Linked DNA regions of Homo sapiens: regions 1, 2, 3, 4, 5 and 7 are each reported to be linked to region 6. Evidence: microRNA targets listed by miRTarBase, many of them from high-throughput screens and not tested one by one. Region 6 holds a microRNA gene; each other region holds the end of a gene's coding sequence. Distances are from middle to middle.
What was found. The annotated mature microRNA hsa-miR-7106-5p reads UGGGAGGAGGGGAUCUUGGG and lies in region 6 at 1,790-1,809, shown strand. An mRNA with a match to its seed (bases 2 to 7 or 8) in the 3' UTR can be bound and repressed. Matches are read on the target gene's strand: a 7mer-m8 pairs with bases 2 to 8, a 7mer-A1 pairs with bases 2 to 7 and ends in A, and an 8mer does both.

Region 1: miRTarBase lists PIGR as a target of hsa-miR-7106-5p. Seed matches in the 3' UTR shown: 7mer-A1 at 1,472-1,478, 7mer-A1 at 1,504-1,510 and 7mer-A1 at 1,638-1,644.
Region 2: the mRNA of FBXW8 is a reported target of hsa-miR-7106-5p. Seed matches in the 3' UTR shown: 7mer-A1 at 3,000-3,006, 7mer-A1 at 1,646-1,652 and 7mer-A1 at 835-841.
Region 3: miRTarBase lists FNIP1 as a target of hsa-miR-7106-5p. Seed matches in the 3' UTR shown: 7mer-A1 at 1,547-1,553, 7mer-A1 at 1,381-1,387, 7mer-m8 at 1,092-1,098 and 7mer-A1 at 511-517.
Region 4: miRTarBase lists GIPC1 as a target of hsa-miR-7106-5p. Seed matches in the 3' UTR shown: 7mer-m8 at 3,052-3,058 and 7mer-A1 at 3,043-3,049.
Region 5: miRTarBase lists GCNT3 as a target of hsa-miR-7106-5p. Seed matches in the 3' UTR shown: 7mer-A1 at 3,123-3,129, 7mer-A1 at 2,407-2,413, 7mer-A1 at 2,239-2,245 and 7mer-A1 at 2,044-2,050.
Region 7: the mRNA of FDXACB1 is a reported target of hsa-miR-7106-5p. Seed matches in the 3' UTR shown: 7mer-A1 at 3,311-3,317 and 7mer-A1 at 3,140-3,146.

Annotation. Positions count from the first base shown.
Region 1 is chr1:206,926,883-206,930,948 of GRCh38, reverse strand. It overlaps PIGR (polymeric immunoglobulin receptor), which reads left to right. Exons shown (of 11, transcript NM_002644.4): 11 at 536-2,427. The coding sequence ends at 631. Among named protein-coding and RNA genes, the nearest start is that of FCMR, 7.0 kb to the right of the region's middle. RefSeq lists enhancers at 1-487, 111-611, 538-827, 1,298-1,347.
Region 2 is chr12:117,027,451-117,031,516 of GRCh38, reverse strand. It overlaps FBXW8 (F-box and WD repeat domain containing 8), which reads right to left. Exons shown (of 11, transcript NM_153348.3): 10 at 4,013-4,066; 11 at 369-3,489. The coding sequence ends at 3,345. Among named protein-coding and RNA genes, the nearest start is that of TESC, 70 kb to the left of the region's middle.
Region 3 is chr5:131,641,247-131,645,312 of GRCh38, forward strand. FNIP1 (folliculin interacting protein 1) reads right to left here. Exons shown (of 18, transcript NM_133372.3): 18 at 468-3,517. The coding sequence ends at 3,439. Among named protein-coding and RNA genes, the nearest start is that of RAPGEF6, 8.1 kb to the left of the region's middle.
Region 4 is chr19:14,474,832-14,478,897 of GRCh38, forward strand. It overlaps GIPC1 (GIPC PDZ domain containing family member 1), which reads right to left. Exons shown (of 9, transcript NM_005716.4): 8 at 3,853-3,934; 9 at 2,931-3,736. The coding sequence ends at 3,585. It overlaps PTGER1 (prostaglandin E receptor 1), which reads right to left and starts at 523. Exons shown (of 3, transcript NM_000955.3): 1 at 431-523. RefSeq lists enhancers at 508-1,176, 3,516-4,031 and a silencer at 1,593-2,075.
Region 5 is chr15:59,619,322-59,623,383 of GRCh38, reverse strand. GCNT3 (glucosaminyl (N-acetyl) transferase 3, mucin type) reads right to left here. Exons shown (of 3, transcript NM_004751.3): 3 at 661-4,062. The coding sequence ends at 3,829. Among named protein-coding and RNA genes, the nearest start is that of GCNT3, 9.6 kb to the right of the region's middle.
Region 6 is chr12:113,156,904-113,160,961 of GRCh38, reverse strand. It overlaps MIR7106 (microRNA 7106), which reads left to right and starts at 1,785; the gene lies at 1,785-1,849. It overlaps CFAP73 (cilia and flagella associated protein 73), which reads right to left. Exons shown (of 8, transcript NM_001144872.3): 7 at 3,272-3,360; 8 at 1,686-2,261. The coding sequence ends at 3,283. It overlaps DDX54 (DEAD-box helicase 54), which reads left to right. Exons shown (of 20, transcript NM_024072.4): 20 at 1,853-3,789. The coding sequence ends at 2,085.
Region 7 is chr11:111,871,369-111,875,428 of GRCh38, forward strand. It overlaps FDXACB1 (ferredoxin-fold anticodon binding domain containing 1), which reads right to left. Exons shown (of 5, transcript NM_138378.3): 5 at 2,688-4,060. The coding sequence ends at 3,554. It overlaps ALG9 (ALG9 alpha-1,2-mannosyltransferase), which reads right to left and starts at 213. Exons shown (of 15, transcript NM_024740.2): 1 at 1-213. The coding sequence starts at 114. RefSeq lists a silencer at 1-158.

The DNA of each region.
Region 1 (4,066 bases), not on the chromosome of region 6:
AAGAAAAATAACATCTCATGCCTTTAATCCCGAGGTGAGAGTTTTTGTTGTTGTTGTTGTTGTTTTTATCATATCTACTTTTTCTTGAAACATCTCTGGCATTTAGCAAAGTTAGAACGAGTTATTCCTGGGACAGCCTTCCCCTTTAACTTTGTGGTGCCAAAAAGCTACCTGTCTGGGCTGGTGGAGAAAGAAAAACATACACCACCGTGGTTGACCCCAGCCTAGGCCACCTTGCCCGTGGACTGTGTGGGCAGCTTCCGGGGACAGGCCCGGGCAACAGAGGCGGTTCCACTCCGTGTGTCAGAAGGAGGTAGTGAGACAGAAGAAGATATTTTTAGAGGCTGCAACTTTCCATTTCTCAAAATGCGTCCTTCTTGGTGAGCATGGGGGCTGGGATGAGAACAGTGGGCCCCAAAGGCTTGTGTTGCTTGGACCAAGATCACGAATTCAGGACATTAAGCACCTCCCCTCCCCTGACTCCACCCACTGAGCCAGTGCCCCCAACACTGATGCCTCTCCTCTTGCCCCTTAGTCATCCAAGGAGGAAGCCGAGATGGCCTACAAAGACTTCCTGCTCCAGTCCAGCACCGTGGCCGCCGAGGCCCAGGACGGCCCCCAGGAAGCCTAGACGGTGTCGCCGCCTGCTCCCTGCACCCATGACAATCACCTTCAGAATCATGTCGATCCTGGGGCCCTCAGCTCCTGGGGACCCCACTCCCTGCTCTAACACCTGCCTAGGTTTTTCCTACTGTCCTCAGAGGCGTGCTGGTCCCCTCCTCAGTGACATCAAAGCCTGGCCTAATTGTTCCTATTGGGGATGAGGGTGGCATGAGGAGGTCCCACTTGCAACTTCTTTCTGTTGAGAGAACCTCAGGTACGGAGAAGAATAGAGGTCCTCATGGGTCCCTTGAAGGAAGAGGGACCAGGGTGGGAGAGCTGATTGCAGAAAGGAGAGACGTGCAGCGCCCCTCTGCACCCTTATCATGGGATGTCAACAGAATTTTTCCCTCCACTCCATCCCTCCCTCCCGTCCTTCCCCTCTTCTTCTTTCCTTCCATCAAAAGATGTATTTGAATTCATACTAGAATTCAGGTGCTTTGCTAGATGCTGTGACAGGTATGCCACCAACACTGCTCACAGCCTTTCTGAGGACACCAGTGAAAGAAGCCACAGCTCTTCTTGGCGTATTTATACTCACTGAGTCTTAACTTTTCACCAGGGGTGCTCACCTCTGCCCCTATTGGGAGAGGTCATAAAATGTCTCGAGTCCTAAGGCCTTAGGGGTCATGTATGATGAGCATACACACAGGTAATTATAAACCCACATTCTTACCATTTCACACATAAGAAAATTGAGGTTTGGAAGAGTGAAGCGTTTTTCTTTTTCTTTTTTTTTTTTGAGACGGAGTCTCTCACTGTCGCCCAGGCTGGAGTGCAGTGGCGCAATCTCGGCTCACTGCAACCTCCGCCTCCCAGGTTGACACCATTCTCCTGCCTCACCCTCCCAAGTAGCTGGGACTACAGGCGCCTGCCAGCACGCCTGGCTAATTTTTTGTATTTTTAGTAGAGACAGGGTTTCACCGTGTTAGCCAGGATGGTCTCGATCTCCTGACCTCGTGATCCGCCTGCCTCTGCCTCCCAAAGTGCTGGGATTACAGGCGTGAGCCACCGCGTCCGGCCTCTTTTTTTCTTTTCTTTTTTTTGAGACAAAGTCTCACTGTGTCACCCAGACTGGAATGCAGTGACACAATCTCGGCTCACTGAAACCTCTGCCTTCCAGGTTCAAGCTATTCTCATGCCTCAGCCTCTCAAGTAGCTGGGACTACAGATGTGGGCCACCATGTCTGGCTAATTTTTTTTTTTTTTTTTTTTTTTTGTAGAGACAGGGTTTCGCCATGTTGACGAGACTGGTCTCGAACTCCTGGCCTCAAGTGATCTGCCGCCTCAGCTTCTCAAAGTACTGGGATTATATAGGCATGAGCCACTGAGCCTGGCCCTGAAGCGTTTTTCTCAAAGGCCCTCAGTGAGATAAATTAGATTTGGCATCTCCTGTCCTGGGCCAGGGATCTCTCTACAAGAGCCCCTGCCCCTCTGTTGGAGGCACAGTTTTAGAATAAGGAGGAGGAGGGAGAAGAGAAAATGTAAAGGAGGGAGATCTTTCCCAGGCCGCACCATTTCTGTCACTCACATGGACCCAAGATAAAAGAATGGCCAAACCCTCACAACCCCTGATGTTTGAAGAGTTCCAAGTTGAAGGGAAACAAAGAAGTGTTTGATGGTGCCAGAGAGGGGCTGCTCTCCAGAAAGCTAAAATTTAATTTCTTTTTTCCTCTGAGTTCTGTACTTCAACCAGCCTACAAGCTGGCACTTGCTAACAAATCAGAAATATGACAATTAATGATTAAAGACTGTGATTGCCACCAACGAGGCTCAGACTGTATTTGCACCCAATACCTTCTGTCTCCCAGACAGCCTCTTCAGAGCTTTTCTTTTCTTTTTCTTTTCCTTTTTTTTTTTTAAGACAGGGCACTCTGTTGCCCAGGCTGGAGTGCAGTGGTGCAATCATGGCTCACTGCAGCCTCAACCTCCTGGTTTCAAGTGATCCTTCCACCTCAGCCTCCAGAGTAGCTTGGACTACAGGCGTCCACCACCACACTGGCTAACTTTTTGTATTTTTTTGTAGAGACAGAATTTCGCCATGTTGCCTATGCAGGTGTTGAATTCCTGGGCTCAACTGATCCTCCCACCTCTGCCTCCCAGAGTGCTGGGATCACAGATGTGAGCCACTGCATCTGGCTGCCTTTTGCTTTGGTCCCAATTTTAGGCACCCTGGGACCCCCTTGTCTGTTAAGATCATTCCTAGGTTCTGGTGCTGAACCATGTCATATCCTCTAAGGGCTGCCCAAGCTGTCTGTTGGCAGCTAGCCCCCCATCTCACCCCTAGACTCTTCCACAGGGCTTCTGTGTGTGGAGAGTTCTCTCTGCAAGAGAGTTCTCCCCAGTCTGCCATCCTGCCTGATGTGAACCTTTGCTTCCACCCAGGCCTTAAACATAATGCTGTGGATGCTATGAGCTTCCCAAGCCTACCTTTTCCTGGGACTCAGACTTCAGGCCTCCTTTGGTGTTCCCTCCAGCCCCACTAACTGCAGTACTCCAGTCTCAGTTCCCAGGCCCTGACCTGGGTCAGAGTCTTGGGCTTCTATCCAGCCAGAAGAGGGGGCATCAGAAATGTTTTTTTCTTTCTTCTGTGATGGGGATGCATACCTTCTGGAATGACAGCAAATCGTTCCAGGAGGATCAAAATGACAGGTGTGTCAGAAACTACCACTGTCTTACCCTTCCAGGAAGCTGTTCTCTGACTCACCAAAGGGCCATGTTTATGGTAGAGGATTAAGATGCAACTTCTGTACGCATTGCAATAACCAGCGAGCCAGTCCTGAACTCGTGTAGCCTATCCCAGCCCTTTGAAGCAAAGGTCAAGAAATGTCACTAAAGCCAAAAGCGATCTTATATTATTCCTAAGTGATATTGTCAGTAAGGCTCAAAGTCCATCTGCTCCCCGTGTAGCACAAGAAACCCTTTTAAATAAGGAAGCTAGTTCATAGGTTCCAGTGGACGTGAGTTTGGAGAGGATATGATTCAGCTTAGTATAGGGGAGTGACCATAAACTGCAGGATTGATGATGATAAACCAATTAGCAACGGTCAGTGGCCCCGAGCATTCAAGGAACTGTTTAAACATTTGATGACAAGGAAATCTTTCCCAAGTTCTTGAATTATCTTAATGTTTATTCTTTTTTAAAAGTCCAATATGTAAAGACAGGACTATTATTAAGGCCCAACAGGACTATTATGAAGGCCCAACTATTATTAATGCTCAACCACTGCTGGGCATTATTAAGGCCAAACAGTGGTTAGGAATTTTTTTTTTTTTTTTTTTTTTTTTTTTTTTTTTTTTTTTTTGGTAGAGACAGGGTCTTGTTTGTTGCCCAGGCTGGTCTGGAACTCCTGGCCTCAAGCAATCCTTCTGCCTCTGCCTCCCAAAGCATGGGGACGACAGGCGT
Region 2 (4,066 bases), 3.9 Mb from region 6:
GTCTTGAGCTCCTGACCTCAGGTGATACGCCTGCCTCGGTCTCCCAAAGTGCAGGGATTACAGGCCTGAGCCACCTTGCCCAGCCAAAATTAGTTTCATTATACCTCATTTTGCTTAAAGTTGTAGTTTCTAAGAAAACCTATTGATGACGGTTGGTGAAGAGTTACTGTACCATGTTGCGGGTCTCCTGGATCCTGGGCTGGGAGCGCCTGTAGGGGAGGTTCTGGGCAAATCCAATTGACTGTGGGTTTACAAAACCACCACGGTGGGAGGTAAGATTTCAAGGGGGTGGGAAGAGCTGGAATCGTGGCATGCCAGGGGATTATCACTGTATGCCTTGCCCAAGTTAAAATAACTTGACCAATAAAGAAATTCAAAGCATTTAATATTAGAACAACTACGGACATCATAAAGCAGAAAGCAAGTCCGACAGTGTTTTGAGAGGCGATATGAGATCTTCAGGTGTTTCACCATCCAGCTCCCCTGGCAGCATGCTCGAGTATCTTCTACCTTTAGGGGAGCCGGGGATGGAGGCGTCCCTGAGAGGGACTAAAGAAGGAAAGTAGAGGATCAATTGGCTAAAAACTCAGAACTTGTTTGTGAAAGGGTCTGGATAAAGGTAAGGGGGCTTAATTTGGATACATGTTGGCTTATAAAGGAGCATTTATCCTTTCCCTGTCAGTGTGATTGATTCCAGGATGTGGAGGTTTGCAGTAGAAAACACTGCCTGAAGTTGGCGTGCTTGAAGATGACAGCTTGAGTCCAAAAAATTCTCCTTTACAAAACCCAGGCGACTTCCACGAATGGCAGGTACGTTAGAAACAGGCTCTGCGGTGGGAGGGGCTACACTTGGGACATTTTTACACTGGGCCAGCTGCTGGCTGCTCTAATTCTGGGTCTAATGACTTTACACTCCGTTATCTTTAATTGCTGCAAACTAGGAAGGGCGAATGCGCCTGCAAAATGAACTGGGAACGCAGACTGAAGGGGCTGCTTTTTGAAAAGAAAAATATTTTCCCCAGTGGTCCAGACGCATTAAGACTATGAGAGAGAAAGGGCGGGGCTTGATGAAAACCTTCTAAAGCGAGGCCACCAGCGAGCAGTCTGACCACCACATGACATGATGAAAGTAAACAAAATCCTGCATTTGCTACCTACAGGCCATCTCCACTTAGGAAGTTATCTGGTTGAAAGGAAGCAGAAAACCCTCCGGTCCATCTGCCTGCAGGTAGGCAGGGTCTGAAAGAAAGCGCTCTGGACGGGAAGGTGACGCTTCCCAGTCGCAGCTCTATCTGCTCCGTTCCCCTGTGTAGTTGGAGATGAATATGGAATGGCTGCGTATCTTAAGCAATCTGAAAAACCTTCCAGAACCTTCATGACGTGAAGGTTCTAGGCTTTGGAGTAATGGCAAGCACTTCCCACTGATACGTACACGTGTGCAACTGAGAGGACTCGGTTTTCTCTGGAATGAGTGTGGACAAACGGTTCCCATGTGGTAGGTACTTCTGCATCCTCAGGTACCTTTTCTCTTCCTCATAGACCACTGTACCTTTATGTTTTATCAAGAGTTGTATATTTTGTCTTTTTTTTTTTTAAACTGCTTTTGGGCTGGGTACAGTGACTTACACCTGTAATCCCAGCACTTTGGGAGGCTGAGGCAGGCAATCATTTGAGGTCAGAAGTTTGAGACCAGCCTGGCCAACATAGCAATATCCCCCGTCTCTACTAAAAATGTAAAAATTAGCCAGTTGTGGTAGCGGACGCCTGTAATCCCAGCTACTCAGGAGGCTGAGGCAGGAGAATTGCTTGAACTCGGGAGGCAGAGGTTGCAGTGAGCCGAGATCAGGCCATTGCACTCCAGTCTAGTCTAGGTGACAGAGCGAGACCCCACCTGAAAAAAAACAAAACCTTCTGGCTTTATATTAACTAACTATTGGTTTTCGATTCCACTGATGTCTGTTTTTATCCTGATTTAACCCCTGCCTTCTGCTGCTTTGGGATTGCTGCTACCTTTTCTGAGCTGAGGTGCCAGCCCCTCACAGCCCCTCCCAGCCCCATCCCCTGGGTTTTGTATTCTGTGCTTTTACTGTCAGCCCAGTCTAGAGAGTTTATAGTTTGTTTTTATTAACCTCTTTAAATCCAAGTAAATTCAGGAGTGTCTGGAATTGTCTTATTTTGCTTTTTGTTGATTTCTCACTATTCTGCATTGGAGTCAATTCCTAGAAAAGCAGGGCCCTGCCTGAGGGTATAGCCCATAGGGTGCAGTGTCTTGGGGTTGGGGGATTCTATAATTTGGCCTGTATGGTGTGAATCTTTGTGCATCTGAGCTGTTCTTTGTGGCCTTCGTACAGGGTGGTTTTTTGTGCATCGTCTATGTGTATTTGAAATTCCATACGCATCTACTGGATCCAGCTTGTTAGCGATACTAAGTAAATCCTCCAGATCTTTACATTTTTCTCACTGATTTGCCTGCCGTGAGAATGGATTTTATTTCTCTTTGTAGTTCTATCAGTTTTCGCTTTGATATTCTGAAGGTATATTAGGTGGATGCTGTTGCTGTTTAGAACTGTTGAAAATCAAGAGTAAGGCAATGGCTTGCTTCCAGAATACTTTGGAAATGGCAGCTCTGTATCACACTGAACAGTTCTCTCCTGTCCTGTTTCATCTTGATGGCTGTTTAGTCAATGAATATTTAGAAAATATTTGCTTTGTATCACATATCATAGACACAATAGTAAGCAAAATAGTCATTGATGACTAAACTGTATAAGTATATAATTATAAACCATGGTAAAAGCTGTGAAGAAAAAGTACAGCTCTACCAGCTTGCTACTGGAAGGTGGTGGTGGCAAGTGTCACAGAAGAGCACCCCAAGTAAATACAGGGAAAAGGACATGGAGGTTATTGCCTTGGAGGCCAGGAACAAGCACATCCAAAGGCCCTCGGAGGAAAAGAGGTAAGGGGCTGGAGACGGAAAAGACGGCCTGCAGGGCTGGAGCTGGGAGGGCGGACACACAGAAGCTGGCTAAGCAGGGACCGTATAGGACCGCGCAGCGAGATCCCTGAGGCGTCCTGAGGGAGCTGAGGCCAGGGTGGCCAGCTGGGTGGGGAAGGAGGCTATGTTTGAGTTGGCAGCACGTGGGACTCGAGCCCTGGCACACGCCAGCTTGCCCCAGGCGCTGGGGGAAGTGCAGGGGTCAGGGAGATGCGTGCTGTCAGGCATGGCACCCTGGGCTGCTTTCTTCCCCTAAATGTTTACCACCTGTGAAGAGGTGCCTGGCGTTTTAAGATGGATAAAACTGGTTCTTCCCATTTTTCTCCTTGCTCCCAACTGAGGCACATCCCTAAACATGGTTATAGGGAAAGGCCAGTGCGAGGTCGTAGTAGTGAGTGGCCATGGCGTCACAGGATGAACGGCAGACAGGGAGAGGGCTCTGGAAGGCCAGCTGGTCCACCGCAAACTCATAGGCGCGGATCAGCCCCCGGTGTCTAGAAAGAGCACAAAGATGGTGACAGGTCAGGGCTGCCTCGCTGGCCCTCACCCCAGCCGCTTCTGTCTGTGCAGGAGGCGTTCGCCTGAGACCAGATAGAGGTTCAGCTTCACAAACGCGTTCTCTGGGCACACAGCGTCAGATACTCACAGTCCCCGGCTTAGCGGTCAACGTGGGGGTGCACAAGTCCGATGGGCGCAGTGAGTGTCACAGGGCAAGGACTCAAGAGGGCGGGCCTTGCCCCTGACAGGATTCTAACCACAGCAGGCCCCTCAGCATACGGCTTGCCCTCCCTCTCTGTACAGCCGACAGCGTGGACTCGCCCCACGGGGCTGTCCTGCATCAGATGCTGGGTGCTCAGTACAGGTCAGCATCCACGTTTATGTTTCCAATTCGCAGAAAGGCAGGGCCCTGCCTGAGGGTATAGCCCATAGGGTGCAATGTGTCACGGCGGGGGGGGTGGGGTTCTATACATCAGTCAAACTAAGATGGTCTCTTACTCGCCCGGCCCCACCACTAACCTCCTGTGAGTAGTGAAGCTGTCCAGGTCGGCGTTTCGCATTACCGTCTGGTAA
Region 3 (4,066 bases), not on the chromosome of region 6:
GATTGTTGGGTTCACTTTGCTTTCATAAAAGCATTTAAAGAAATTTTCAATTTGTTGCTCGCTGTAAGAAGATACTCTTATATTTTCTGTTACTATGTTTTTATTCATAAGAACATACGCTAAAAATTCGCAAAACAATAGGTGGGGGGCCACAAGAGGAAGGCTGGACAGATTATCTGGTAAAAGTAGCAGCCAAAAATTATTTAGCACTTGGAGTATGCCAGTACTGAGCTAAATCCTTAACATTCATTATTTCACTTGATTCTCACAACCACCTCATGAAGTAGATTCTATTAAATTACCAATATGGAAATACCAATGAGGAAAGGTCACATCCTTAGAAGTGTCAAACTTCTAAGTTTGACAGAAGTTATATCAGTCCATAACTTCTGTCATCTGATGTCTGGACAGACATCAGTCCATGTTACGTATACCTTAATATATGAAAGAAAGACCAACACCATCCATCAAGTTGACATGTGTATTTATTGCACAAATATCCCCTAGAACTGGGAGGTTATTATAATACAAGTGTACATTTGAGAAATGTATACAGAACAAGAAACAGCTATGTACATATCCAACATCTAAGTAACTTAGAAAAAGCAGAACAATCTCATAAGACATCTACCAGAAGTAGGCATTATGTAAAATCTGTTTTTTTAAGTGATCATCCCCAGAGTATGCCAATTGGAACAAAACAAAATCTGTACTAGTATGTTTTTATTGCACTTAACATTTTCAAACTCAAAATTAAGACATATTAATAAAAGCCAGAAATATTTAAAATCAAACCAATTAGTTTATATACAAGAAAAAATTAGTTTTAATTCTATAATGTAAAAGATCCCTTTTTTATTTCCTGTTTCAATAAACAGGTTTTTTTTGATATGTAACAACTGTCTGTACCATAACTTGTAAAAATTATTTAGAACAAGCCAAAACTCTTTTCACATTCATCATAATGACCACACTTTAAAGTAGCAGCAGCTCATTCCTTGGGCTTTGCGTAAGGAAAGAATGACTATGGTGAAGGTAATAGAAATTATAGAAGGATTAGGAATTACAAAACTCAGGAATGGGAAGCAGTGGGGAGGAACAAAACAGTAACTCAGGAATCCTATAAGGATTAATGATTCTTTAAGAAACTATAGGTCATTTCCTTCCCAGCAAAGCTTAGCTTTAGGAACAACAATAGCATGAGCCACCCACTTATTGAGGACTAGAATTTCTAAACGGTAATTAAACATTTTAAATAAAGAACAGTTTGATGGTTAAGGAGACACCCAGACATTATCCAAGTGCTATACAGAGCTACAATAAAAAAAAAAAAAAGTACAAGGCTGGGCACAGTGGCTCACGCCTGTAATCCCAGTACTTTGGGAGGTCGAGGCAGGTGGATCACTTGAGTTCAGGAGTTCAAGACCAGCCTGACCAACACATGGTGAAATCTCATCTCTACTAAAAATAAAAAATTAGCTGGGTGTGGTGGCGCACACTTGTAATCCCAGCTACTTGGGGGCTGAGGCAGGAGAATCACTTGAACTGGGAGGCGGAGGTTGCAGTGAGCTGAGATCGCACCATTGCACTCCAGCCTGGGTAACAAGAGTGAAACTCCGTCAAAAAAAAAAAAAAAAAAAAAAAGGTACAATGGCCCGCAAATGTATGAACTTTTTAATATTCTGAATTCTGCCAAAAAGATTGACTCATAGAATTCCAAAATCAGACAACTGGATAATTTTGTTAATGCACAGAATAAGAAAATTAAGCCAAAGAAAATATATCCACAAACACTCCTTGGCAGCAAGTCATCCATGGGAGACTCAGGTAATAACTGGGACTAGGTAAAAGGTCATGGGCCAAACAGATTGCAGACACACCAATTTCAGGTTTACATTCCATTAAAACAACAATTTTTTCTTTGTCTAGTTGGAAGTCTCTTGAATACATACACAGCAAGGCAAAATGTGACCCAATGCTGTAAATTCAAGGTCAAAGACAACTTTCCATTAACTATTGAAAATTTAAACAGCAAGAATGGATGTGTTATATAGTAAATATATTTAATAACTGAATAAACAAGTGGTTTTCTTTTTTTAATCAATGATGAAATTATGATGAAAATAGTCAATGAAAGCAGAAACCAACTTTACTACTAGCATTAAAAGTCTCTTAGACCAGATAAGCAAAGAATAAACTATAATGTAGTACTCAAGTAAACTGAGGTAGTAGAAAGTATTGAAAACTTTATCCACCCACCTTTCTATTTACATTACTTACAAGAGTTTGGTTCCATATTAGCCTTTCTTACAAGCAACACTCTATAGTATGTACAAAGGCAACAATTGAGAAGTGAAAATCTTTGAAAAAAATACACTTTTGGAAGGGAGGGACTCTTAGAAAAAAAGAGAATAATTTTAAGAGTTATGAATAGTGTAAATTGAGGATTATTAAGCAGTGAAACAAATATTCAGCTCCTATGGGTTCATGAGGGTTGATACCAAAAGCAAGGGCCTTGGCTACCTGAGCACTTTTAAAGAATATAGTATTGTTTTTGCCGATGCTTTGGTGCAATTTTTAATCCTAATTTTCATTTATGTTAAATTAGTGAATATGTAAATATTAATATTTATAAGAACAGTTCATACTTATAAACAAATGGTATAAAGTAGTATTCTCATTTTGGGAATCTCAGCCTTAAAAAAAAGGTTGGCTTTACTTATATTTTAGAGTGTGTGAAACAGAAAAATCACCAATAAGTAATATTTCAGCATTATAGACAATACTAGTTGAAAATATATATATTTTTAAAGGCATGTTTACCAGTCTTGTATTTCTATTTCTGCTTTTTAAAAAAAAATAGGTACATATGTACACTTGGGTGGATAACATAACACATTTACACTCATTATTCTGAGTTTCTTATAATTAACAGGCTGTTTAAAATACTTACTTTGAGAAATAACCAGACATTAGCTGTTTTGAATTGCAAAACTAACAAATAATCAAGGTTTTATAGATCTCTGTACCTTAGAAATTAAAAATTAAAAACTAATGAATAACTATTTCTGAGCCATTAAATCATGAGACACTGTTGCTATTTATGAGCTGTGACAACACTGCAGTGATCACATGAAACTCTTGATAATATTCATTTTGTAGAAATTTCTACCGTACACTTTGGCTTTTTCAAATGCTTCAAAATTATTGTTGCTTTAATTTCATTTGTTTAAAAATCTACCACCACCCAAAAGTCCAGTCAAAAAGAAAAAGCCATCTGACATACACAGAATATACAATGCTATGCAGAATACCCTGGTGACTGACTCATTCAGATGGAAGTCTAAAAGGGAAAAAGAATCTCCATAAATGCATGTTGTGTCTGCTTCCTTGGTTTCTACCTATTTTCCCACCAATTTCTAACAATTTTTAGGTATATTAAAGGAGTATTTGTGCAACATATGGAGAGTGAGTGCTTGCTACAGCAGCCAGAAGTGGAAGATCACTGGATTCAATCCTGAAATAAAGGGGAAAAAAATGTCAGTTTTGATTTTCTGTACTGAGGACATGAACTCTACAGGCAATGACCACCAACTGTAAGGTCACTATACCTCAACGGTTAAGGAGCTAGGCCACTCTGGCCGAAAGGAAAAATTCTCAGTAAATAAAACACAGAACTACAGATACGAGTAACAACATCATAAACGTAGAAAAGTGTCTCAATGACATGCTGATGGAACATGAACTGGGGCATGGCACAATGACTAACAACTGCAATCTAGTGTAATAATAGCTGGGTGAGGTGACTCGTGCCTGTAATCCCAACACTTTGGGAGGCCTAGTTGGGAGGATCGCTTAAGCCCAGGAGTTGAAGACCAACCTAAGCAAGATAATGAGACCCTGTCTCCACAAAAAAATTTTAAAAACTAGCTGGGCATGGTGGTGTGTGCCCGTGGTACCAGCTACTCTGGAAGCTGAGGCAGAAAGATCTCTTGAGCCTGGGAGGTTGAGGCTGAAGTCAGCTATGTACCAACAGCAGGGCAACAGAGCAAGACCCTGTCTCAAA
Region 4 (4,066 bases), not on the chromosome of region 6:
CACGGCCATGTCCCTGTCCCCCATGGACCCATCTCTGACCCCACATGGCACAGCCACATCTGTGCCATGGACCCATCTCTGCCCCTGCCCCATGGACCTGCCTCTGCTCCACTGCGGTCTCTCGCCAGGCCCTACCCCGATCACCTCTGCCTCACCCTGGGTGCCCACGGTTCCACTCCATATCCCTGCCCCAGAGGCCTGGAGGCGGCCCCACGACCATCCACTCTTTGATATCCTGGTGGTGAGGGCTGAAAGGGCGGAACTGCCCACCAGGCCAGATGGGAAGGGAGGATGGACAGACGGTAAGACAGGGACGCACAGATCAGGGAGAAGAGCCCGGGGACACAGGACGGACAGCAGGTGGCCATGGCCCCACCCCTTCATGCCCTCCTCCTCCCCAATCAGGGACCCTCATGTGCAACCCCCTTACCCGGCACTGCCTGGGATGTGGGGTCCCCATCACCGGCCGCTCAGCCCTGCCGCCCACTGCGCCCTGGCTCTCCGGCAAGCCGCTTCCTCCCTCCCTCTTCCTGGGGCGGCTCCTCAGCTCCTCCCGCCGCCCTTGCTGGCCTCCAGGGGCCGCTCCACCCCGCGCACGCCCGCTGGGGGCCTGGAGTGGCAGAGACCCCCCTCTCTGCTCCTGGCAATGGGCGGGGGCCACTCTGGGCCCCAGCGGCTCCCTCCACGAGGAGTGAGGCTCCCTGGAGTTGGTCTGGCCCCATGTGACCCCCTCCTCCCAGCAGGGCGGGAGCAGCCCCCTTCCCCCCCAGGATCGGGCCTCTTGCCTCATTAATAAAGCGGATAAAATCTAAACACTGGAAAATGTGAGCGTCGTCTGGGGCGGGCTGGGGCAGCTGCAGGGGGTGCCACTGCCCCCCTCCCTGGGGCTTTGGAGCTAGAGAGGCTAACTCCAATTCTGTGGGGCCAGCAATGCCCCCCCTGCCCTGCCAAAGCCTTCGTGGATGTCGGGGTGGGTGCTGGTGGGCAGGGCCTCGGGTAGACCAGCTTGGGTCAGGCCCAGCCTGGCCAGGGGATCCGCCTATTTATACAGGGGCTTAAGCCCCGGCTAGGGCCACAGCGAGTCATATCCTGGGAGGAGGCTGAAAGGGGGCAGGGGAACCAGGAGGCCTGGCGACCTGGGGACTCTCCCCAGTGACTGGCTCCTTTAAGATGGGCTGAGTGACACCTGTGACACACGTCCTAAGACACAAAGACTCGCCTCCTGCCCTGAGAAGTAGGGTCACACTGGCACAGCCTCACACCCTAAGACATACAATCCTGTCACTTACCACTCAGTTTCATCCTGTCCCCATCTCAGCACAGCCAGGTTGCTGCCGCCACATCCCTGAACTCAGGGTCTTACCCCCAGCGCCGGGACGCACCCAGAGTTACTGCCTCAATTCCAGCCCCTCCCAACACCCCAAAATGCAGCCCTCTGAGATGATCACCCGAACCACCCTCCTTAGTGCTGGGAAATAGGGTCTCACTTGGCACCCCGAGAGATACACACACGCACACACACTCCTTATTGCCAAAACTGCCCCTGACCACACTCTGTTTGACTTTCAATGACCCCTCAACAATCCCAGACAGGCCCCACCAGCACACTCCGTACACCCAAGGCACAAGAAGTGACACCCCCCGCCGCTGGACACCAGAGACCTAGCTGGCCACCCCCACCCTCACCCAGAAACAGCAACGCCCTGAGACACACACACCTGCACCCCTAGAGACCCCTAGACCTAGCCAGCACCCCCACCCAGGAAACAGCAACACCCCGAGACATACCCTGACACCCCTGAACACCCCAAGGCCTAGCCAAGCACCCCTCCTTGCCCCAGAAACAGCACCCTAAGACACACACCCCCACACCCCGGGACACCCCAAGACACAGTCACTCCGTTGCACTCCCCACCACCAGACACTGCCAGTTACACCTGCAATTGCCCTGGAACACAGAGCCGGTTATCACATCCCTTACCCACGACACAGCCCTCCCTCATTGCGTCACGAGCCATCAACACTCTTGATAGACTCACAGTGCTACCCAACACCCGAGACACACATAGCCACACCCCTTCACCACCGCAAGCGGCTCCCAGCACAGACACCTGAGGAGCCCACAGGTGCCCGGGGATGCCCTGAGTCACCAGGACTGCGGCTCCCCGACTCCACCCGGGTCTGTCCACCAACACCCAGCCCCCAGGGTCTTCCCCTTTTCCCCCTTCCCCTCTTCCTGGTGGCCCAGTGCCCGCCCGCCTTTTGGAACGAGGATTGCAAGCTGGCCTCGGACTTCCCCACAGCCTCTCGGCTCACCCCCAAGCATTCCTGTGGGGCCTTCTGGCCCAGCGCCCCTTGCTTCAATCCCTTCCCTTCCCTCCAGGTCTGGCCAGGGTCCCACCCCGCCTTTCCCTGATCACCCTCAATCCTCGAAGATGAGTGGGTTGTCAAAACAAGTATGCTGGGTTTATGTCTAGGACAAAGCAGGGTGCCCCATGGACGCCTGCGTGTCCAGCATTGGGCCGGGTGGGGTGGGGGCTGCCTCACGCCTGCCCCCAACCTCCCGGTGTAGGGGTGGGGCTCTGGCAGGCCTGAGGTTCCATCTTTCTATTTCCAAGCCAGGTTTCAATGCCCTGGTGCTCCCCACGGTCCGGGGGTTGTCACCAGCTGCAGACAGCAGCCTTGTGAAGCTCCAGGGGGTAGGAGGCCTTGTGGGAGAGGGGGCAGGATTTGAACCCTCAGTAGTCCAGGAAGCTCTGGCCCTGCCTGGAAGCCTGGTGGCCTGCAGCCAGAAGGAACAGTGGGAGGGGGCAGGTGGCTTGGTGCCAGCTCCTAATTCAATTTGGAGCCTGCGGAAGATGGATTTCAGCTGCTGAATTCTTTCTCAGCCCCAATCTTCCCCCTCTCCCACCCCGAAGCCACACAGGTCCAACAGCAGATAGATTCTTTATGTTCAAGACAGCAAATTCAGATACAAAAACCCACCGCCATCGTCCCTCCCTCCCTCCTGCTCTGGGCCAGGGATGGGCCTGGAAGGAGAGATGGGAGGTGGGGAGGAGGTTGCGGGGTTCACAGCAGACTCGTGTCAAATGCGGAGGTAACAGGCTCCACAGGGAGGGGGCTCCTCTCAGGAGGGGTGAGGGCATTATTGCATTTGCTGGGGGGAAGGACAACCCTCTCCCCTGTATTCCCTGCGTCAGGAAACTAGGAAGGTCATGACCCCCAAACAGAACCCAAGGCCCCAGGGAGACAGAGGGACCAGTTTGGCAGCTGATGGTGGAAAGTGGTGGAGGCGGGGGTGGCCGCCCAATTTGGCTGATCCCTCCCCTCCCTGTGCCTGACCCAGCTGAGGTAGGTGGGGAACAGGGCACAGGGGGGCCGGGGACCCCGGCCAGACTGGGAACCAGGGAGGGGATGGTACCGATTGGAGCGGGGCAGGGGGCCTGGCCCCACCTCCCCTCACCATCGTCCTTGGGCTGCTGAGCTAGGCTCAGGCTGGAGGCTCGGGTCCTGACGTCAGTGTCCCTGCTGGGGGCCCCCACCAGGTTGCGCCCGGGTCATCATCGCAGGGTCCGGGGGCAGTCCTAGTAGCGGCCGACCTTGGCGTCCCCAATGGCGCCCCAGACGTCAAAGACGAACTCGTCAGGGAAGGCAAAGTCACCCAGCCGTTCGTCCAGGGCCTCGGCCAGCTCATCCGGGTTCCTTTTGTCCTTTCCCAGCTCCACCATGGTGGCCGCTATTGGGGGAGGGGTCAGAACGGAGGCACAAATGACACCAGGGACCAAGGGGCTCAGGGTGGATTCGGCCCCCAGCAGACCTAGATGCCCCCTCCCCCAGGCAGCCCTCACTCACCCAGCTCCGTGTCCCTGATACCCATGTAACTCTCCAGCAGGTCATCCACCTTCTCAATGGCCTTCTCTTCAAAGGCAGAGGGCTGGGGGCCAGGGAGGGGTGACAGCGACATCATAACAATGTGAATATACATAGTAATTGGACGGACTGCCATTGTCACCACTTTACATATATTCGTATTTAGACCTCAGGACAACCCTGAGAAGGTGGTATC
Region 5 (4,062 bases), not on the chromosome of region 6:
TTTTGTTTTTGCTTTTTGAGACAGGGTCTCACTCTGTCACTGAAGCTGGAATGCAGTGGCACAATGATCATAGTTCACTGCAGCCTCAGACTCCCTGAGCACGCCTGCAGTTCCAGCTACTCAGGTGGCCGAGGTGGAAGGATTGCTTGAGCCCAGGAGGTCGAGGCTGTGGTGAGCCATCACTGCAGCACTGCACTCCAGCCCGGGCAACAGAGTGAGTCCCCCGTTTCCAAAAAAAAAAAAAAAAACATTTTTTCCACTCAACCAAGAGAAAGACAAAAACTACAATGAGCAGAGTGTACAACAAAAATGCAGTTATTAAAACAATGCTTACCAATAGCCCACAGATAAAAAATAAGGAGGAAATCCAAACCCTGAGAGGTAATACAAACACAGTTGTTCAATTAATTTGTGAGATTTTTCCTTACCAGAGAACGGTTAAAGACACAGATATGACTCAGAGGGAAGAGAAAAATCAGCAGATGTGTTGGTGTATGATTTCTATAATACACTAAACAAATGAGGGCTAAATTCGACCCCTCTGATATGAAGACCCTGTGTTATTAAATAAACAGCACTTCCTACGCACCTGAATATATTTCTAGAGAAAATTTCAATGGTTGAAAAATTTCAGTAACTTATCCCCAAAAAAATGACAAGTTCACATTTTAATCTTTTTATTTATATAAAAAATTATAAATTATTTCACATGAAAGCTTTTGGAGTAAGTTAACTATGAGGCCAAAGTTCTTTTCTCAGAGAATCTGCACCCAGGGAGGCTTTTCTGCCTACTTCCCACGGTGGCCGTGTGCCCCTTCTACCTCCTTCAGAGGAGGACCAAGGACCATCACATCAGCCAGCAGGGGGAGGCCGTGATCGATCACCACTGCTGGCAACAGACCTCTCAGGGCACACCCACTGTGTATACAACTAGTCATCAGTCATCTCCGTAGTGGGGTTGGGAGCAAAGTGAATAGGACTCTATTACAATGCAGGCAAGTTGGTAGTGACAATGACCATTATCTAAGAAGTACAACCTTACCAAAAAAAGGTAACTTTTTTTTTTTTTTTGAGACTCAGTCTGGCTCTATCGCCCAGGCTGGAGTGCAGTGGTACGATCTCAGCTCACTGCAACCTCTGCCTCCCATGTTCAAGCGATTCTCCTGCCTCAGCCTCCCAAGTAGCTGGGATTACAGGTACCCACCACCATGTCTGGCTAATTTTTATATTTTTAGTAGAGATGGGGATTCACCATGTTGGCCAGGCTGATCTTGAACTCCTGACCTCAAGTGATCTGCCTACCTTGGCCTCCCAAAGTGCTGGGATTACAGGCGTCAGCCACCACACCTGGCCAAAAGTAACTACCTTATAAATAAAAAATTCACTGTGTCAGACACAGTGATAACTGTCAGAGTTACAGGGTTTGCATAGAGAAAGTTGATCATGACAGAAAACTTGATGAATTGAATGACAACACTCAGAAAGGGCTGGGTGCGGTAGCTCACGCCTGTAATCCCAGCACTTTGGGAAGCCAAGGCAAGTGGATCACTTGAGGTCAGGAGTTCAGACCAGCCTGACCAACATGGTGAAACCCTGTTTCTACTAAAAAAATACAAAAAAATTAGCCAGGCAAGGTGGCACACACCTGTAATCCCAGTTACTCAGGAGGCTGAGGCAGGAGAATCGCTTGGACCCAGGAGGCGGAGGTTGTAATGAGCCAAGATTGCGCCATTCGTTGCACTCCAACCTGGGTGACAGAGTGAGACTCTGTCTCAAAAAAAAAAAAAAAAACAAAAATCAGAAAGGAAGAAACATATTAATGACATCATGACGTATTAATGGGAGCATCCTTCAGATTACACCAATTAACTTGCATATAAATCACCTTTCCAGGGCATATCGTATGCAGAAGATGAGCTGTACTATATTCAAAGGGCACTGCCTATGTTTTTATAGTATCCCTTGCCCATCACAGAAGAGTATAACTTAGCCAACAACCATCTCTGGAGCTTCGGAAAGGAAACTGTTTCACTAGGTAACACTTGGGAGGTAGCGTGCTGTATGTGTGTATACATACACACACATATATGTATTTACACATACCTTATTGTCTCCCCGCAAGGAAATGTGTAATCTGCAGAATCACTAATAGCGATCCTTCCATTCGCATTCTGAAATAAGAGTTTTGACTCAAGAGGGGACCAGGCATGGTGGCTCACACCTGTAATCCCAGCACTTTGGGAGGCTGGGGCAGGTGGATCACTTGAGGCCAGGAGTTTGAGACCAACCTGGCCAACATGGTGAAACCCCATCTTTACTAAAAATACACAAAAATCAGCTGGGCATGGTGGCTCACATCTGTAATCCCAGCTACTTGCAAGGTTTGGGGGGAGAATCACTTGAACCTGGGAGGCAGAGGCTTCAGTGAGCCAAGATCATGCCACTGCACTCCAGCCTGGGCAACAGAGTGAGAACCTGTCTCCAAAAAAAAAAAAAAAAAAAAAAAAAAAAAGAGTTTTGACTCAAGAGGCCTAAACATGGAATAATAAGACATCCTGGTTTAACTGAATAGTCCTAGTTTATTTTTATTTCTCAATACAATTATTAATAGTGCAGACTCTCCCCCTACAAAAACATGTTCCACTTTGAATAATGAATTACACATTACCTTACCTGATTGGCTATTATCTCCTTTATGGAACATTAGCTAAGCTTTGGCTGTAAAGTGGACAAAATTAGAATTAGTGCTGCGATTTTCCTGTAAGAGTACAGGAAAGGTGGTCAAACTGGTTAAATCACCCTGCCTTTTCCTTTACAGAAAAATCACAAACCTGGCAATATAAACAAAATGAGGATGGCTTTTAACAATGGAAGAACCATCCCTGTTCCCCTGTCTTCGTTAGAATTTGCTATTTGTAGGCCAGGCGCAGTAGTTCCCACCTGTAATCCCAGCATTTCGGAAGGCCGAGGCGGGCAGATCACAAGGTCAGGAGTTCAAGACCAGCCTGGCGAATATGGTGAAACCCGGCCTCTACTAAAAATACAAAAATTAGCCAGACATGGTGCTGCATGCCTGTAGTCCCAGCTACTCAGGAGGCTGAGGTGGGAGTATCGCTTGAACCTGGGAGGCGGAGGTTGCAGTGAACTGAGATTGCACTACTGCAGTCCAGCCTGGGTGACAGAGCAAGACTCTGTCTCAAAAAAAAAATTGCTATTCATGCAGCTTGTCAGGACCATTTCAGAATAATGAGAACTCTCTTGCCAGCCCCTAGGGATTTTAAATGTCATGAATAGTTATGAGAAAAAGTCTCACACACTTTATCTGTTTATATTTATATTATTTCTGGCATACTAGGCAAAAAGTAGAGGTAATACTTTGAATCAGGAGCTATTTATTTTTAAGTTAACAGTACAGAAGGGAAGGTTCTCTTTCCATCAAAGTTCTCCTCCACGCTACCAAACCTGGAATTATTAGGAACGGCAGCTCCACAGAATGGAAAAGCTACCAGCAGGCATTCAACTGAAATCAAGTGCTCTACCACATATCCCTCCTTCACTCTCCCTATCACAGCAGTTCTCATTCTCACTTAGTGAGAAAGTTAGTGGAGGAACTACTAGGGTTAGGGGTGAGAGAACAAGCAGCATTCACCCAGGCAGCAATTTGCAAGGCAAAAGATCTACTTACCCACACTCTAATAGCAGCCCTCTTATCCTAAAGGATGCCACGAATTGCAAAGCCCTGGTCTCCCACCCACACTGTCCCAGCAAGTTCTGAGCATGTTTGTACATGCTCTTGCCCCACAGGTAGCAACGCTCTCATAGTGTGTCTCAAAGTTCAGTCCCATAGATGGCCTTATAACGTAGGTATTCTTCTAAGCACTGAAGAGCATTATCATCTACCTTTGGGTCAAACTTGTTGGCCAACAGGTGATGGTTTTGAAGCATCCAATTCAAGTCCCCAGCCCCATAAACGCAGATAGCCCGCTGGTGGATTCCAGAGCAGGGAGCATAAGGAGCACCCTTATCGATGTCTCCCTCATGACCCTGCCACTTGACCAGCCT
Region 6 (4,058 bases):
ATAACTTCTGGTAGATGCCCTGTTCACCTAATTAAGCCGATTGTGTAAAATCCTAGAGAACCCGGGAGGTGGAACCTTGTGCAAATGCAGGCCATTTTCACCTGCAAAAATGGCATTTGCATGTGGTTCGACCTGACAGTGAGCATGAATTGATTCCCTGTGGCATCCTTAGGAGTGACGTTCTTTTTAGCAATGCTGTGGGGAAGTTCATGTCACCAAAGACGCAGTCAGAAGCAGCTTTGGTTCTGGGAGGAGGCGATCACAGGGGATGTTGAGGAAGATACTTCCTTGAAATGTGGGTTGGCAAGTGGTACATTTGGTCATCTGAGGACTTGGACCTCTTTGATCTGGCCTGGGTCCCTCAGCCAGTAACAAGCTAAGGTGGATTTGAAGCCGGCTCTGTCTGCCAGAGCCTGTGCTTAAGGGCTGTTATCAGGGAGGGGCTCCCGCTTGCTGGGTGCAGGCAGGCTCTGTCCTGGAAGGCCACACATGACCTGGGAGGCAAGGTGACTGCGAATACCCATTTTACAGGCCAGGAAACAGGTGCCTTATGAGGGCTATGACTGAACCTGGGTCACCCAGCTGCCCAAGGCTCCCACCTGGAGTCTTCCCTGGGGAGAGGGGAGTTTGGGACCATGTCTTGGGTCTCTCTCAGATGGCCTTAGCCCCTGCTTGTGTCCCTCCACCTCCTGGGGCTGGTCACTGCCTCCCCTGGGTGTCTCTGTGAGCCTGCGTGCATTTGCCTGGGCCTGTTCTCTGTGGCTCCTCCCTCTCCAGCTCTCCCATCTGTGGGAGTGTCTCCTTGTCAGCATGGCTGGGTGGGGACCACCCACACCTCACTTCTCAGCCTGTTTTTACCTAGGTGAAACAGCAGCTTCTGCTGCGAGCATTGCCGTGCAGTGGGCGTGCAGGGGCTGGGGAGACGGGGGCGACCTGTGGGCTTTGGGAAAAAGCAGCTGTTCTTCCTTTGCTGTCCTCATTGGAGGTGATAGGTCCTGCGAGGCACCCTGGCTCCATTGGAGACAGCTGGGACCACCTTAATGGTCATCCCTCTAGGAGCCCTGGGGAGGCTGCTGTTATGAATGGGGAAGAGGAGGAGGAGGACACAGGGCTTAGTGGGAGCCAGGGAGGGTGGTGCTTGCCTCCCGGAGAACTAGAAGAATGGACTACCTGATGCCCACCTGTGGGGCTGGGGCAGGGTCGCTGACCTCTGCTGCTGCTGCTGCTTTGCTGTGTGATCTCAGATAAGTCCCTCTCCCTCTCTGGCCTTCTTTGATTCCTCTCCCACCTAAAGGAAGGTTCATCTACACTCTTTTTTCATCTAACAAGCCTAGAGCATGGTGTCCATGGAGACAGAGGCTGAGGTCTGTATCGGTTACTATGGGGGGCCTCAGAGCCTGGCGTGCCGTAGGTGTGCTGTGGAGACATACACTCCTTGGTTGGAGAATTTTTAATAGTAACAGTCATGCCCAAAAGGCTCCCACTATGGGACAGGCCTTGAAATTCTGACCACTTTACACCATGGAAATGCATTTACTCTTCACCCATGAGGGAGGTGCTGTGATTTATAATTCATAGATGGGGAAACTGAGGCACAGAGCCGTTAACTTCTTGCCCACGGTCCAAGAGGTCACAGCTGGGATTTGAACCCCAGCGGTTCTGGCCCCGTGTTATTGACCACTCCATGAGGCTGCCTAAAACTTTATTAGCCACCTACTGTGTACAGACACTGGGCCACAGCAATAAGCACAGAACAGGAGTAGGGGCAGGGGAGGAGTCTGCAAGCTTCTGGGAGGAGGGGATCTTGGGAGTGATCCCAACAGCTGAGCTCCCTGAATCCCTGTCCCAGCAGGTGCATCCCGGCCCCACGCCCCAGGCACCCCTGCAGGCCGAGTCCGCCCGGAACTCAAGACCAAGCAGCAGATCCTGAAGCAGCGGCGCCGGGCCCAGAAGCTGCACTTCCTGCAGCGTGGTGGCCTCAAGCAGCTCTCTGCCCGCAACCGCCGCCGCGTCCAGGAGCTGCAGCAGGGCGCCTTCGGCCGGGGTGCCCGCTCCAAGAAGGGCAAGATGCGGAAGAGGATGTGAGGACCAGGACCCAGCCCCGTGGCTCCTTGATTGGCCTTAGGGTGGGCATCAGCAGACGTTCCCGTGCACCACTGTGTGCCTGGCCCTGTGCTGGGCACTGGGGGCACTCCCTGCAGGAGCCATCATCTGTGAAAAGGAGCACTGTATGGCCACAGAAGGGCAGCAGCTGCGTCAGCCTAAGACAGAGACATTTGAACAGGGCCTTGAAGGGTGTGCAGGAGTTCGCCAGCAAAGCCAGGCAGGCCAAGACTTGAGTTGGCAACTCAGCTGCTGCTGCTTCCATGTGTTCTGGGTTCAGAGGTCATGGCTGCACCGGTCAGAGCCCTGAGTGCCTCAGGGTTTGGCAATGGAATTTTTAATGTAATAAATCTTTATTGAGCACTGCTGGTGGCCAGGAGTGCGGTCTACTTGGGGAACTGGAATGGAGAGACCCAGGTACTAAAATCCCAGCTAACGTGGCAGAGGAGTTGCGGGTCTCCTGAGGGTGAGTTCTGCTGCCTTGTCCATTTAGCGATGAGGAAAGTGAAGCTCAGAGCACAAACCAGGTGCCAGAGGCGGGAGTTGGTCCCCCTTCCTCCCACTGGACATGGTTGCAGCTGGGAGTGGGCTGGGGGAGGGGAACAGGATGCCCAGCCCAGGGGGCAAGGACACAGCTGCTCCCCTCTGGCTATGAAGAGGTTAACGCGGCCCCTCCACACCTGGAGGTCAGAACCTGGCCTGTCCTCTGTCTTCTTGCCACCCACCCCCTGTTTGAGGTTCTGAGAAGGTCAAGGGCAGCCCCAGCAGCTGGATTCTCAGGCTGGGCCCCTCACCTGGCAGAGTCCATAGTGGAGGGGGCCTTGGTGATCTCTCATCTAGCATGGACCCTGTTCTGAGACCTGACAAAGAGTTTTTTTTCATGCCCCAACCACCCTGGCAGGGAGGGCCTGGTCTGATCTCATTTTAGAGGCAGTTGCCCCACACATAGCCCCTTGACCTTCCCATCACCTCCTCATCAGGGCCTGCATTTATGGAGTGCTTGCTATGTGCCCCTCATGGCAGGCCCACAGCACTCTGAACAGGCACAGCCCTCCCATCTTCCCAATGAGGAAACGGATTCAGGAAGAGCCACTCAGTCCACACCCCATTGGAAATGTGGGCCCTCCTATCTCAGGGTCTCTCAGGGGTTCCCTCTCCCGCTGCTCACCTGTGTCAGGGCTAGGAGGCAGGGGCTGCAGGCTCAGCCTGACCCAGGCCGGCCAGCATGGCAGAGAGGTCCTGCATGAACAGCTTCACCTGGGGGGGCCCAGCACGAAGTCACATCCCAGCCCCAGAGTCACTGTCCAGCCCCCACCCCTCAACACGCGGGGGAGGCCGAAAGGTAGGGCGGGGACTGGAGATCCCCTCATTAAAAGAACAGTGATGATGGTGGTTCCCAGAGGTGGTGACTGAGATCCTAAACCGTTCTGGGTTTTGAAAGCCTCAGGCCAACCTTCCCAACTGCTGCGTGAGCAGACACCTTCACAGCTTCCTCGCTGCTGTCACCTGCACTATCCAATTAGTATTTTCATTTACATCAATCAGCTTTATTTTCTTGTAACTGGATCAGTCATATTCATTGGTTTGTGACCTACTCTTATCTCCGTGGGTGGCTCTCCTTTTGTTTTAATTAACTTCTTTATGAATATGAACTTAATAAATACCATGGATCCATTGTAAAAACTAGAACTTGAGGGTGAACTTACAACCATCTGTGGGCTCCCCCTCATATTCATCACCGTATCAACAGCTGAGAAGGAAACTTTTTATCTCCACCAAAAATGGAAAAAAATAGTTACCCCTTGTCATAACTAGGGGGCAACTGGAAAAATAATGCAATGAACAAATGAAGCTGTTACTGAATTCTGGCAGCCGCAGGACAGTGTGAGTCCCAGGCCCGGAGGCCAGGGAGTGTTAGGGGAGGTGGGAAAAGGCATCATGTCCCTCCGTGGAGC
Region 7 (4,060 bases), not on the chromosome of region 6:
GCCGCCCGCCTCTCGGCTGCCCAGCAGCTCCCGCAGCTTGTCCGCAGCCGGGGCCGTATCCCCACTGCTGGCCCCGCTGCCCTTCAGGCGCTGCCGAGCCCCTCGACTAGCCATGGCAAGCCTGGGGAAAAAAGAATTCGGCACCCTATGAAGTCGGTGAGCGCGCAGACATAGCTTTGGCTGGCAAACGGTGTCCGCCGAGGGACAAAAGACCTTGACATGCGCAGAAAATACTAAATTATAGCGTTACTGGGCCAATTGGGGCAGATCCCCGAGTAGCGAAGAAATAGAACCTGAGGAGTTTCTTCATCAGGGCTGTCCCATCCACCTGCTTCTAACTCTAGCCATTCCTACCTCCCTCCAACCCTCTTTTCCGTCACTTTTCAGCATTCTCCATTCTCAAAAAAAAAAAAAACCACCTCTCAGCTCCCCTATTTAAATGAAAAAACAAATAGAAAGTGATTAAAGAAATCTACATAGTGAGATGTGAAGTATTCAGTTAAATATCACAGCACAGCTATCTACTAAAAGGTCCTTAAAATGTCATTTTTAACACCTTGCCTTCTCTGTATTTTGGTAAGAGTGACAGAGGCAGCCTGTAGCTAAAAACTGCTTCAGAGAGACAAACCGGTAATGGCAGAGTGTAGACTGATGAAATTCTGTGCGGCAAATTGAACCAGATGTCCATCACTGTCATCGCTACTACGGCATTGTGGTAGGCATTTTACATATTTTATCCTTTTTAAACTTAATACAACAACCTTGTTTTATTTACCAGGAAACTAAATAAACTTGGAGCTAGTAAATGGTGGAGCTATGTTCCAGCCCAGGACTATCTTACCGGAAAGCCCATGCTCTCTCTTCCCACCAGATCTGGTGAAAGGTCTTCATTTCCTACAATCATTTTTATACTGGCACATTGATGATATCATACCTGTGACCCCCATATCTTGGGGGTCATTCATCTAATCCTGACACTCTATCCACTCCTCTAATCACAGAGCTATATCCTACCCTGTCGAGCTCCATGCCAGTAACTGGGACAAGTTTATAGAGGGAATGCTAATCTCTTGACAAGGTCTCAGAAGGTTGTGATTTCCTACTAAAAATTCCCAAGTATTGAAAATGGAGATTGATCATATTGCTCAATTCTCACATGCAGTCATTAGTTACCAAGTTCAAATATCCAGCTTAACTCTTTTTTTCTTTTCTTTTTCTTCTTTTTTTTTTTTTTTTTTTGAGACAAGAGTCTTCCTTGCTCACCCAGGCTAGAGTGCAGTGGCACAATCTCAGCTTACTGCAACCTCTGCCCCCTAGGTTCAAGAGATTGTCTTGCCTCAGCCTCCCTAGTAGCAGGGACTATTGCCACCACACTGGCTAATTTTTGTATTTTTAGTAGAGATTAGGTTTCGTCATGTTGGCCAGGCTGGTCTGGAACTCCTGGCCTCAAGTGATCCACTTACCTCAGCCTCCCAGAATGCTGGGATTATAGGCGTGAGCCACTACACCCAGCCTAACTGTATCTCATATACCCATCTCCTCCTTTTCATTTAAGTCTAATGCAGGTCCCTCCCTGTCTACGTAGGACTAACACAATAGCATCTCCACAGGGATCACTCATCTCAAATTCATCCTGTGCAACATTAACCAGTTAATTTTCCAAAGCACTACTCTGGGGCACTTCCTTAATAAAAAACCACCGGATGTTTTCCTATTGCCTACCAAATAAAGTACAAACTCCTTATTCTAGCATTTGGTATTCATGAACTCCAGCCCCAACTTACCGTTCCAATCTTATCTCCCACTACTTTCCTATGCACACTTTACATCCCAGCTAACTAGCCTAGAAAGTGCCCCCAAATGCTCCCTTATCTATATCTCTGTTTATGGATGTCCTCTGCCCAAAATGCACACCCTACTTGCCTAACAATTCTCCCTTCACATTCCTGCCCTTGTTTTAAGATCCAGCTTTCAAACGCTACCTTATACATGTACCAAGCACTACTGAGGATAGAAGAAAGGGATAAATCACATTACCTGCCATCAGTTAGCAAAATAGTCAATGTGGAGAGCTCAGCAATAGATGTGTCTGTAAGAGATCCCTTGATTCTTTATCCCACTCCCCAAACTTACTCGTATGGCAGTGTTTCCATCCAAGTTAATGACACTTCCAATCTTCTAGGTATTCAGGTCAAAAACCTAGTAGTCTTGCTTAATTCCTTTATTTCTCTAACCCCACACCTCTCTCACCCACACACAAATGTTTAATTCATCAGCAAGTCCTTCCAAATATTATCCAACCCAACATTTTACCACCTTGGTCCAGGTCATTATCTCATTTGCATTACTGCAATAACCTCCTAATTTGTCTCTGTACTTCCATTCTTGCCTTCCCAAGTGCTTTTCTCTAAGAATAAATAAGACAGTCATGTCTCTCACAGAATATAATCCCAAATGTGGAGCCTAACTATTAACAGGAGCATACATTACTTCACATTAGAGTACCGCATTCTGCAGAATCCTAAGCTAATTTTCCAGTGTCCCTTAGAGATACTTACAACAGAAGGCCCCAAAATCCAGAGAGGCAAAGTTTAATCACAGTTGAACGATTACTGTTAAAGACTAGGGAAGAAGTAACAGAAAGTAGCAGAAAGAACATGGGCTTTAGAGTCAAACAGACCCAAATGTTAACCCTAAATCTGACACTTTATTCGTTCCATGACTTTCAACCACAGAATTAAAATGGTGATGATTATAATAATAATACCAAAATTAATGTGGAATATTTGCAATTTCCCAAGCTAATAAATGTTAGTCTGATGCCAAAAACTACTCTCATAAGGTGATTTAATGAAATGATACAACAAAGTTAAGGGAAGAGTAATTGACAGTGTGGAAAACATATTTATATTTGATGAGACACTTAAGTTCTACTGCCTGTTCAACAATAGAGCATCTAAAGTACAAGATGCTGTTTTGTTTATTGTTTTAGTCACTTCTCGGGACCAAAATATTACACAACTCCAAATGTCACCAATCACATTATAATCTATAAGTTTCAGTAATAGAGTCAAGGTATCTTTAAGATCAACTAACAGTAGGCCGGGCGCGGTGGCTCACATCTATAATCCCAGCACTTTGGGAGGCCGACGCAGGCAGATCACGAGGCCGGGAGATTGAGACCATCCTGGCTAACACGGTGAAACCTCGTCTCTACTAAAAATACAAAAAAAAAAATTAGCCAGGCGTGGTGGCAGGTGCCTGTAGTCCCAGCTACTCGGGAGGCTGAGGCAGGAGAATGGCATGAACCTGGGAGGTGGAGCTTATAGTGAGCTGATATCATGCCACTGCCACTGCACTCCCGCCTGGGCGGCAGAGCAAGACTCCGTCTCAAAAAAAAAAAAAAAAAAAGATCAACGAACAGTAGCTATGGTCACAAAGTAAAAGATTTTACAAAAACAAAAATCCAGAAAGGACTACTGGTTGCAAGTTGGTAATTTTCCTCCACATCCCCCGCAATGAAGGATCACACTGCAGAAAAGGATTTACCAAACTACCGAGGTATAACATATAGGTGTTGTTGAATCTCCTTCCTAAACTGGGACTGCATTGATGCTACTTGCTGCTGGGTGAGGGCCTTGTCACAGGTCTGGTAGGTCAATCTATAGCAGAGACTGACCTGTTGAGTCTTTGGATGCTGGAAACGGCTAAGAAACTGTATGGATATAATAGTGTCCTGAGACACTGCTCGGGCCACAGTGTGAAACTCTAGTTCATCAAATCCTTTCTTCTGATCTATCCAAAAACTAACATCATGCACATAACATGGAGGATACAGAGAATGACTTTTAAAGGGTTCTATTTTGCCAGGGACAAAATTTTTCAGGAAACGGTTATCAAACGTCCACAACATTCTCCAGTCAGAGATACACCAGACAAGCATGGCTAATAAGTCCAAGTTCATAGACACAAACACAAAACACTGGTCTTTATGTATAACACTAGTGGCAGATGTGATAACAGACCCAATAATTAGATCCTCAGTACAATCTGGGCTAAA